2 separate regions of the Homo sapiens genome follow, and region 2 is linked to region 1. Evidence: fine-mapped expression QTL. Tissue or cell type: tibial artery. Region 1 holds a variant in brackets; the other region holds the start of a gene. All regions are shown on one strand. Distances are from middle to middle. Region 1 has its middle 23 kb from the start of CAV3. Region 2 holds the start of CAV3 (caveolin 3).

Region 1 (5,374 bases):
GTGTATTATCCCTCTCCTCCCTCCCCTCTACCCTCTCCTTTCTCCCCTCTCTCCTTTTCCTGCAATCTGGGTTATGAATGAGGTAATATATGGGAAGAATGCTGCACAGTGCCACGTTACACTCTTCTTTGCTTCTCCCTTCAGCTCAGGGTTCCTAGACAGTGTGACCTGCAGGGTCAGGGCAGCTGCCCAGGGAGCCTGAGGTCAGGTGTGGAGGGAGACTTCTGGCCCATGCTCAGCATGCCTCTCACTGTCTTCAAACCCAGTTTCCCAACAGGCCCTGCACCCCACACCCAACTCCTTTTTTCGTCAACAGAAGACCCAGGCTTTCAGCACCCAGAGATTGTGCAGAGGAAGAGAGAGAGAGAGACACCACTGGTGCCCCCACCTTGGGACGTGCCTAAAGATCATGCGGTAGCCCCTACCCCCACCCCCAGGTTTCTGGTTTATAAAGGACCTCCATGTCTTCAATCTCCCCTGAGACTCACAAGAGTCCTGAGAAAAGGTAAAATGAAGACTCATTTGAGAAAGAAAATTAGGCCCAGCGAGGTAAACCACCCTCCCCAGTGCTGAACAGGCTATAAGACGCAGACAGCAAGACCAAAATCCAGGCAGGATGACTCCGAAGTCCACGCTCTGTTGGCTGAATAGGAAGAAGCTGAGCTGCCTCCCACAAAGCCCAACTCCCCTTGAAACTTTCTTAACAAGAAGACGTTTTGATTCGCCAGAAATCTCCCAAGGGAAAGCATACTTGCTGTCTGGACCAAAGCTTTTCAAACTTGAGCATCAGTCAGAATCCCCTGCAGGACATTAAAACAGATGCCAGTCCCCATTGCAGAGCTCCCAAGTCAGTAGGTCTGGGGTGAGGCCTGAGAACTTGCATGTCTGACCGGCTTCCAGGAGATGCTCATGCTGCTGGTCTGGGGACCACACTTTGAGAAGGCCTGGTTGGAAAGTCTTGATAAATGCTTGATGTTAAAGTTGTACTTGGGGCAGAAGGGAAGAAATGATTCCACGTGGAAACCAAGGAGGAAATGCATCCTTCTGCTCCCCAAAGGGAAGTAAAATGAGAAAAGAGGATCGAGCAGATGGGAGGAAGGCATGGGTTTGGCGAAGTAACCCCTTCAGCGACTCCACCAACAACTTCCATGACAGTAATTAGGGTGATGAGTACTCAGTGCTAGTGAGTTGGTGGTGTGCAAATTGAGGTGACGGATTGGGTGTCATGTGGGGATAGGCTGGGACAGACAGTCCACAATGGCCAGATGAGTGGGCTGGCCATCTGGATTTCAGCCAGAAATTAGCAGAAGGGCTTTGGATGTGTTGACTATGGTGTCAGGGGACTGAGGACATGTCATGCACCTCCTGTGGGCAGGGAGGCCCATGAACCGAGGAAGCAGGTGGCCATCTGTGGCAGCTGTCACAGCCCAGCATAAAGCTAAGCACTTCTACTTATTATATCATTCAAAAGCTGCCTCAGCCTGCAAGGTGGGAGAGGGGCCTGGGGTGGGGAGGTGAGGTTGCTGAACTTCCGCCAGCTCCCTGAACCACAGTGGCTGTCATGCCACCACCGGAGATGAATTCTAGGGAAGGCTTTGGCGTCTTTCAGGATCCTCTGTTCAAATGTCCTTCGTAAGTCCATTTACCCATTAGTTCCACAAATATTTACAGAGCCTCTACCAGGGGCCAGGTGATGTCACACCTTTAAATGGTCATGAGCTAATGCTTTAGAAGGTTTAAATTGGCAATCGGCCTGTCTTATTTTAATTTAGAATGATCAACAGAGTAAAGAAGCAGGGAGCTGAATTACAGGTCTGGTGAGCTGAGACTTTAATGCTATTTGTTAGCAGCTGGTGTTGTTATTACTGTTAGGAGGGCTTGTCACAGAGGACGGCATGGTTCAGAGTTGTCTGTAAAATCTGAGACTCTGGAAAGCCAGAGTCCTTTTGTCAAGAGTCAAGTCTAAGGATGGAAGGTGTGAGTATCAGGGGTGTGAGAGTAGGGTGCTAGGCAGTAGAGAGCACAGGAAAGATGGGGGCTTGGGTGGCCTGGGTGCTCCAGGCTTCTGAAAATTCTCACTCTGACAAGAGCTCCAGAGAAGTGTGTGAAGGACAAATCCCTGCTCATCCTTGTTCTAGGACTCTAAAGGGATAGTTCCTCTGGAAACCTATCCAAGGAATTCATTCCCAGATCCCCAGAGACCTCCATCCTAAGGAACGCACATTACAGTCTGTTGGGAAGTAGTTCTGTTCTCTATGTCTGATTGTGCTTCAAAGTTTTCAAAAGTCCAAATGGTGGGGGAAGTAGGTGAGAAAGACACGTTTAACATATAACCCTGGAGCGAGGAGCAGTGGATTTTGAGTCATCGGCCCAAGTTAGAATTTGGCCTCTGCCACTTCGGAGCTATGTAAACTCAGCAACATTATTTCCCCTGTTAAGCCTCATTTTCCTCTCTTCTGAGAGAGATGCTAACACCTACATCCCAGCCTCTGAGAGGCTACAGAGAGCAGTGATTGCAGGCCTGACTGCTGGGATTCAGATCCTCACTCTGCCATGTGCAAGCTGTGTGACTTTTGCAAGTTACCTAACCTCCCTGAGCCTCAGTTTCCTCATCTGTAAAATAAGGTTAATAATCATAGCTATCAGACAGGAGTACCATGAGGATTAAATAAGATGTAAAGCACCTAGAACAACTTTTGGCATTTAGCAAGTGCTATGTAAGTGCTTATTTATTTAAAAGATAGTCAAATGGGATACTTAACTGTCAAACCCATCACCTGCCATTACCTCTGTAAGGGAAGGCTAGAGATTTTTGGAGGGAATTTGCTCCGGTAGCAAGTACCACAGCATTTCCCTATGGGTGCGAGAAGAGGGGGTCGTTCCTCTGCCTCCCAAGCCAAGTGAGGGGAAGCCCAGGATAACTATTTGGGTAGGCTGGTGG[C/G]GAGGGCTTGCAGGATGAGGACGTAGCCGTCCTCTCCCTTGCCGGATTTCTACTGAGCTGCAGATTCCCAAAGGCCACCCCAAGTGTCAACAAAGTTCATGGAGTTCTTGATGGTGCCTAATATTAGTGTCCAGGAATTGGGGGGGTGGGGGTGGGGCATGGGGTCATGCAAGGTAAGCCTAAGGCTGGTGGCTGGCAGGAGCCGCCTACAACGGCAGAGCCAGGAGAGCAGCCTGCTAGTGTGACGTGCCCAATGCTAGGGGCTAAATTGCATCTCCCCCAAATTCTTATGTTGAAGCCCTAACTCTCAGTGTGACTGTGTTTGAATTAAAGCCACAAAATTGGGAATCTGATCCAATAGAATTCGTGTCTTTATAAGAGGCACCTGAGAGCTCACTTGCTCTCCCTGCCACCTGAGGATACAATGAGAAGGTGGTTGTTTGCAAGCCAGGAATGGAGCCCTCACCTTAAACCACCTGGCCAGCTCCTGGATAATCTTGGCCCTTCAGCCTCCAGCACAGTGAGAAATAGAATTTCTGTTGTTTAAGCCCATGCAGTCTAGGGTATTTTGTTATGGCAGCCTGAGCAGACTAAGACACCCAGGGTATGTGCCTATTCCCAGGCACCAGTACTCTGTGGAGGGCAGCCTGCCAGACTCTGGGAGTCCCAGGGGTGTGTAGCCTGGGCCAGGACCAACAATTAGACCAAGAGTGCATTTGGGGAGGGTTGGACAGAGGTCCTTATAGAGCATTCTCCAAGGGGAGCTTGGGTTGGGGTGTCAGCCATTTGTCCACCCACAAAGAGCAGTCCCAGACAGCACTGGCTGTGTGAAAACATCTTTCGGCCTCTTCCAGGACGCCATGGCAGAAAAAAAAAAAAAAAAGAAGCTGCAACTTGAATGATGAGACCACAGCCCTCCCCGCTTCAGTTCCCAGCAGGGGCAGCCTCACCTGAGGAGAGGAGATTGCTTGGTGCTGAAAATGAAATTAAATTAAAGTTGTAATGGGCTGGGCTTTCTTTCTTTTTTTTTTAATTGAAGTGTGACACTTTGCTGTCCAAAGCGTGATCTGAAATGGAGCATCGCCAGAGAGCCTGGAAGAAATGCAGTCTCAGGCCCTACCATCTGCATTTTAACAAGAACCTCTGGTGAGTCACAAGCCCACAAACGTTTGAGAAGTGCTGGTGTAACACATGAACAGCTGCAGAAATGCCCACATACGGACACACCCAAGCAGCTGGCACCCAGATATTTACCATACCTCCACCTCCCCAGGCAGCCCCTGGGGGCCCTTCCTGCTGGATGCCCTATGGTGGGTTTTCTTAATTAAGCCTGAAATTGAGTCTGTTCCAATTCTCCAACGAGAACCGAAGGCTGGAGGCTCAGCCCAGAAGGTCAACAAGGGGTGGAGAGGAGCTTGAAGCCATGGTGGGAGAGAAAACAAAGCCAAATCAGAGCCCAGCTCCTGCAGAAACCACTGTCTCTTCTCTCTAGCTCTATGGGCTTTCACTGTACCCCCTCCCTTCTGGCCTGTTGTCCTGGTTGATCTTCACAGCCACTTTAACTCCAGATTCATAAAAATGCAAATAGTGGAGCCTCCCACAGTAGCCAAGCCTGGGGCTGGTGGTGGCTGCTACAGCCACAGCTGCTCCATCAGGCAGCTTCCGTTTTTCCATTGCAGATGAAAATGCGCTATTTCCTTTACATAACTTGTAATATCTTGAGTTTGCCACTCACACCTGTACAATCAGGCAGCTAAAACTTATCTGGTTGTGGTGCTACTTCTCTGAGATTCCTCCCAGCTGATTCCTTAGCACCTCAAAGATGCTGGCACATTCTCAGCAAGAAATGGGTCTCCTCCATCCCCAGCTACCTCGCTGGGTGCCATTGGGTGAGTCTCCAGGGCTGCTTCTGTTGTTGATGGTCTGTCCTGGAGCATGGGACTCCCAAGAATCAGGCCAGGGATACAGGCTTCCATCGTCTAAAACAGGGTTTCTCCATTTCTGCACCACTGACTGTGGGACTGGATAATCCTTTGTTGTGGGGGGCTGTCTTGTGCAGAATAGAATGTCCAGCAGCATCCCAGCCTCTATTTACCAGATATCAGGAGCACCTCTATGACAATCAAGTGTCTCCAGCCTTTGCCAAATGTCCCCAGATTGCTCCTGGTTGAGATCCACTGTTCTAAATGCATGGTCAATGCCCTGTGTGCTGGGCTGCCAGAGGGAACTGGGATGGCCTGGTGGCAGGGTTGCCCAGGAAGAAATAATCCAAGTTCCCAAGTCAACAGTGAGGATATATTCCAACAGGTCTACTGTCACAAGGAGAGGACAAAAGTACCAACGGAGCATTTAAAGGGGAATCAGTGGCCAGGTCTTAGAATAGAGAGTTTCTTAATTTGGGTATCCCAGGAGGAGACCTTCAGACAAGGGTTC
Region 2 (5,374 bases), 22 kb after region 1:
AGTAGTTGCTATTGCCATTAGCGCTCATTGATCCAGTGACTATGGTTGTGAAACAAGCTCCCCCAAATTCCAGTGACATAAAAAAATGATTATGATCATGAACTGTGTGGTTTAGATATTCAAACAGGACACAGAGAAGACAGTTTCTCTGTTTCATGGTGTCTGAGGCTTCAGCTGGAAGACAGGAAGGTTGGGGATGACTTGAAGACTGGCGACTGGGAACATCCAAAACTTTGTTCACCCTCATGCCTGATGCTGATGTTGGTTGACAGCTGGAGCCTCAGCTCCTCTCTATGTGGTTTTCCCACATAGGCTGGTGTGGACTTCCTCCCAGCGTGGTGACTGAGGTCCAAGAGCAAGAATCCTGAGAGGAGAGAGCCAGGAAGCCAGCCAGGGAGGGAACACAGACCCTCCCTCTTGGTGGAAGGAGTGTCAATCTCATCATCTTTGGAAAAGATGGCCTTCCATAATCATTATTACTATGTCGTTATTATTACTTCCCCTTTAGGATGATGAGTTCTTCTAGGTGGCTCTTCCATCCCTGGCGACAAGACTGCCATTAGCTGGCCCACCTTTCACCAGACATATCTGGTTCTACGGTGCACAAAGCTTAAGCTCAGGCTTAGATCCCTGCCACGTCCCTTGTGAATACAAGCAGCAATGTTCTTTTTTTTTGTTACAATCTCTTTGCAGAATATTCATGTACCTGGGACCAGGGGGACCTGGGGACCCAGGCAAGGGAATGGAAAAGCAACAAAAAAAGTTACCTCTTAATCCTAAGCGACTTAGGGACAGTTTTCTGGTTGCCCACCATTTATCCCTAGTAACACTGTGGGGGTGCCGAAAATGTGCTCAAGCTAAAAAACCTACAGTTCCATCATCGTTTGCCAAGACAGGAGTGACCAATGAGATATAAACAGAAGTAGTTGGGTTGGACTTCTAACAAAGCTTTATAACAGAGCCGACTCAGTTCGCAGATGTCGTTTCTTGTCCCTGCCCCTTCCTCTTTCTTCTTATCCAGACTCAGAGATGATGATTGGAGGAGCAGTAGACATCTTGTGCCTATGAGGTGGCTTTCGGGCTAGCAGAACAGAAGGATGGGAGTCCAGATGTCTGAAGACATCATGGAGCCACTATAATATTTCTGAACTACTTGTGTTAAGTGAGAAAAAAAGTTCCTACCTTATTCAAGTCACTATTACTTTTGCATCCTTTGTGTTACTAGCCAGGTGTAATTATTGATAAAGCCTAAATCACCTCTGGTTTTCCCCCTCCTACCTCAAACTTCACCCAGCTCCAATCCACCCTCCACCTGGCCACCAGGGAGCTTCCTCACACACAAATCTGATACCGACCCTGTCCTGCTTTGAAGCCTTCAATGGCTTTCCAGCACCCCTAGACAAAATCCACATTCTTTAGTATGACATTTGGGATGCTGCACACCCAGGCCTGAGCTGAGCTGTATCTCCTGCCTCAACCCCAGACACCCTGTGCTCCAGCCACTCCACACTTTTCAACATTCCTGTCTATACCACTCCTCAATATCCACAATCCTGTAACTTGAAGTGTTCTAGGTGCTGAGCTCCTGCTTGTCATTCGATACCTATCTGCAAAGCCACCTCCCACAGGAAGTCTTCCCCGGTGTCCTCAGAGTAAGTTACTGACTCCTATGGACTTCTAAGACCAGCTCTTTGTAAAATATCTCTGATCTGTGGCACTTACCGCACAGTATTATAATCACTTATTGTTTTAATTAGTCTCCCCACCTTGACTGGGAGCACTTCAAGGCGGACAGAGCCTTGTTGGTCTGTTTATCCCCAGCTATTAGCAAATCCTGAATGAAGGAGTGAATAGACAGGTAAATGGAAGCACAGACCCTGACCCCTGAGGATTCAGAGTTGCCATCCTTCATGCTGCTGGAGCCCAGGGGAAGGCTGAGTTAGAAGAGGGCACAGAAAAACCGAGCAGGTATCTAAGAGAGGTGCACCCCACTGATGCATGTGGAGTGTCTGGGACCCAAGAAAATCCTGGAAGCTGTCACTAGGGCAGGGTGAAGGGTAGCACGAACATGGACTTCATGTTCCCCCCACCGGGCATATCCCAGTGCAGGCTCCAGACGGCAGACGAGGGGCAGCCCCACAGCAGCTTCCTCTCCCTGTTTCATCCCCAGCCTGGCCCCACACCACAGTCCATCAACTCCTGCTCCAGGTGGAAACCTCAGAAACCCACAAAGCTCGGACCTGCTCCAGGTCACCAAGCAGCAGGGCCAGGCACTGGCAATCCAACGAGAAGCCCCACTACATCGCATTCCAGCTCCTGAAGCCATTCCCTGGGTAGGAGAGCCCTGATTGTTATTATCATCTCTCCATTTTACAGATGGGGACAGAGTGGCCTAGAGAGGTGAAGTGTGCCAAAGGTCACACAGCCAGCCAGAGGCAGAGGAGGGACTAACCCCACTTCCCTCCACGGGCAGTGCACCCCAAAGGAGCCAAAATGCTGACAGCAGTGGGGCAAATTCCAGGGGCCCCGGAGCGACCGCCGAGTTGGCCACAGCCACACGATGCATAGGAAACGCTAGGCCCTCTGCACCCTCTCCTGAGGCCCAGTGCCCTGAGGCAGCCCCCTTTAAGGAGCGATCGGCCTTCCAGAAGAGCTCCAGTCTTAATTTTAGCTTGGAGGCCTGCCACAGGAGGCTTTAGAGAGAGGCAGGCTGAAGTTATGTGGGACAGCTGTCAGCCGGCATGCTGGGTGGGGCCTATTTAGCTGGCAGGGACATAAGTCTGGGGACACTGAATTGGTCTCTCTGCCCCAAGTATTTTCAGCCCCAGCCGGCCACACAGCTCGGATCTCCTCCTGTGGATCCCCCCAGCTCTGCGATGATGGCAGAAGAGCACACAGATCTCGAGGCCCAGATCGTCAAGGATATCCACTGCAAGGAGATTGACCTGGTGAACCGAGACCCCAAGAACATTAACGAGGACATAGTCAAGGTAGGCTCTGCAGGCCTGCCTCGGCGGGCGGAGAGTGTCAGGTTTGCGAGACGTGGGCGCTTGGCAGGGGAGGGTATCTGCTGCAGACACAGTTTCCCTGAAAAGAGACTTGTTGCTCTGTTGTCTCTGTATCACCCCCCCAACCCCACCCCACCCCCAAAAAAAGGCTTCTAAATCACCGAAGGATCTTTAGCAAAATCAAGAGCAAAAAATTAGCCTCATCTCCATGACCTAAGTGCTAATCAGGGCAGGAGGAGCGAGTCACAAAGAAAATCCCTCCTTACTACTGTGACGCTCCTGCCACTCACTCCTGGCTCTCACCCTGGGAGGAACAGGAACGGGCGGCCAAGTTGGGCTCCTTTCTGTGCCAAGGGGCATTTCTGCGGTCTCTCCAGTGGGTGCAGGGTTAATCCCCAGAGGGCAGCTTCCAGCAGGGCCGGCAGCCCCTCGAGGTACACTCACTCCCCCAGAGCACTGCCCAATATCTGTCCCCAAGGCCGAGGGCCATGCCCAGCCCTCCCCTAGCTACCCCCTCACCCCAGGTCTAGTGGCCAGGACAGGGCAGACGGCACCCGGGACCCTCGAAGAGAAAGCTCGGGGTTGTCTAGCCCTCAGGGAGTCTCTCAGCGTCTGAAGTTGGGCCTCTTCCCTCGCCTCCTGGTGACACTAGCGGCCCTGCTGCCTCCAGGCCCACACCTTCAATCCAACTTCCAGCCAGTACCCAGAGGGATCTTTCTTTTTTCTTTTTGAGACAGTCTCTCTCTGTCCCCAAGGCTGGAGTGCAGTCGCACACTCACGCCTCACTGCAGCCTCAACCTCCCAGGCTCAAGTGATTCTCCCTCCTCCACCTCCTGATTAGCTGGGACCACAGGCGAGTGCCACCATGCCCAGCTAATTTTTGTATTTTTAGTAGAGACTGGGTTTCATTATGTTGACCAAGCTGGTATCAAACTCTTGGGCTCAAGTGATCCTCCTGCCTCCCAAAGTGCTGGGATTACAGGTGCAAGACTCCACAACTGGCTCAGAGGTACCTTTCTAAAGCAGAATTCCTCCAAGAAGGGTCCCCAGCCACCAGCATCTGAGTCACTGGAGGGGCTGTTAAGAGGCCAGTGTCTGAGGCCTCTCAGATCCTACTGAAAGCATTGGAATCTCAGGCCAGTGCTGTCCAATAGGGATACTGTTACCACAAGGAATTTAAAATTTTCTAGCAGCCACATTTTAAAATGCGAAAGCAAACAGGTGAAATTAATGTTCCTGATATTTCTTACTTAACCCTATATATCTAAAATAGTATTATTTCAACATGTAAGCAATATAAAACAATTATCAATGAGCTATTGTACAGTCTTCAAGTTTGAAATCCAGTGTGCTTCCTATACCCACAGTATATTTCAGTTCAGACCCCACATTTTCATCCGAAATGCTTGTTCTGCATTTAGATTTCATAAAATGTACATGTGAAAATCGATTCGCATGCCTGTACTGTTTCAAACATTCTGCAAAAATTTTTCAATAATGAAATCGGGGTTTACATTTTAATTAAAGTTAAACAAAATCTAGAATTCTTCAGTTTCACTAGCCACATTTCAAGCGCTCAAAGCTCCTGGCCACTGGATCAGACAGGCCTGTATTGCGGTCTTTCAGTGGGGCACCTCCCATGCTGGAGAAGCCTAGCCTCTCCACGTGGCTGTCCAAACCCAACACAATCTGGCCCCAACCTGCTTCTTCTGCCTGGTTGGCTCCCACCTGCCAGCCCACCCACCAGAGTACATTCCTGTGCCATTGCCAGAAGTGCCTGTCCTCTCTTCTCCAGGTGGTGAATGCCTCACTCAGCCTTCAAGGCCCAACTCAAATGCAACCTCCTCCAGAAAGCCTTCCCTGACTCCTCCAGGCAATTAGTTGCTCCCACTTCTGTCCCCCTGCTTCACTCAGGGCATTCCTCCACCACAGCTCTTCTTATACTGGATATTATATTTCTATACATCGTTAGTGATGGAGATAGAGTATACAGTATAGCACAGTGTGAAAGCTGAAATGAGGAAAATTAGGAAACAAATTTCACAAACTGTAAAGCACTATATACATGTAAATAAAATTGTACCTGTAAAATATTATTAGTTATGGTTTCCATCAGTGTCATCTAGCAGGAATAGTCCTGGACTTGACTTTAATAGACTTGATTTCAAATCCAGTCCATTTTACCTAAAAATGATAACACTGGACAAACCAACTAGGTTTTCTGAGACTCAGTTTCCCCTGTAAAGTGGGAATAATATCATTTCCCAATTTACCTCCACCAGGTAAACGAATCTCAAAGCAGCACTGTGCGTTAGAAATATAGCATGAGGATTGAATGAGATGAAGGGTTTGAAAGTGTCTATCAC

Evidence for each region. PIP is the estimated chance that this variant, and not a neighbour inherited with it, causes the effect. A credible set is the group of variants that fine-mapping cannot tell apart.
Region 2: CAV3 starts here. The variant in region 1 is the best candidate, but not a certain one, in a credible set for the expression of CAV3 in tibial artery (GTEx, PIP 0.51).

Annotation. Positions count from the first base shown.
Region 1 is chr3:8,708,591-8,713,964 of GRCh38, forward strand. No RefSeq gene overlaps it. Among named protein-coding and RNA genes, the nearest start is that of CAV3, 23 kb to the right of the region's middle. The variant C/G (reference allele first, on the strand shown) is at 2,942.
Region 2 is chr3:8,731,001-8,736,374 of GRCh38, forward strand. CAV3 (caveolin 3) reads left to right here and starts at 2,802. Exons shown (of 2, transcript NM_033337.3): 1 at 2,802-2,990. The coding sequence starts at 2,877.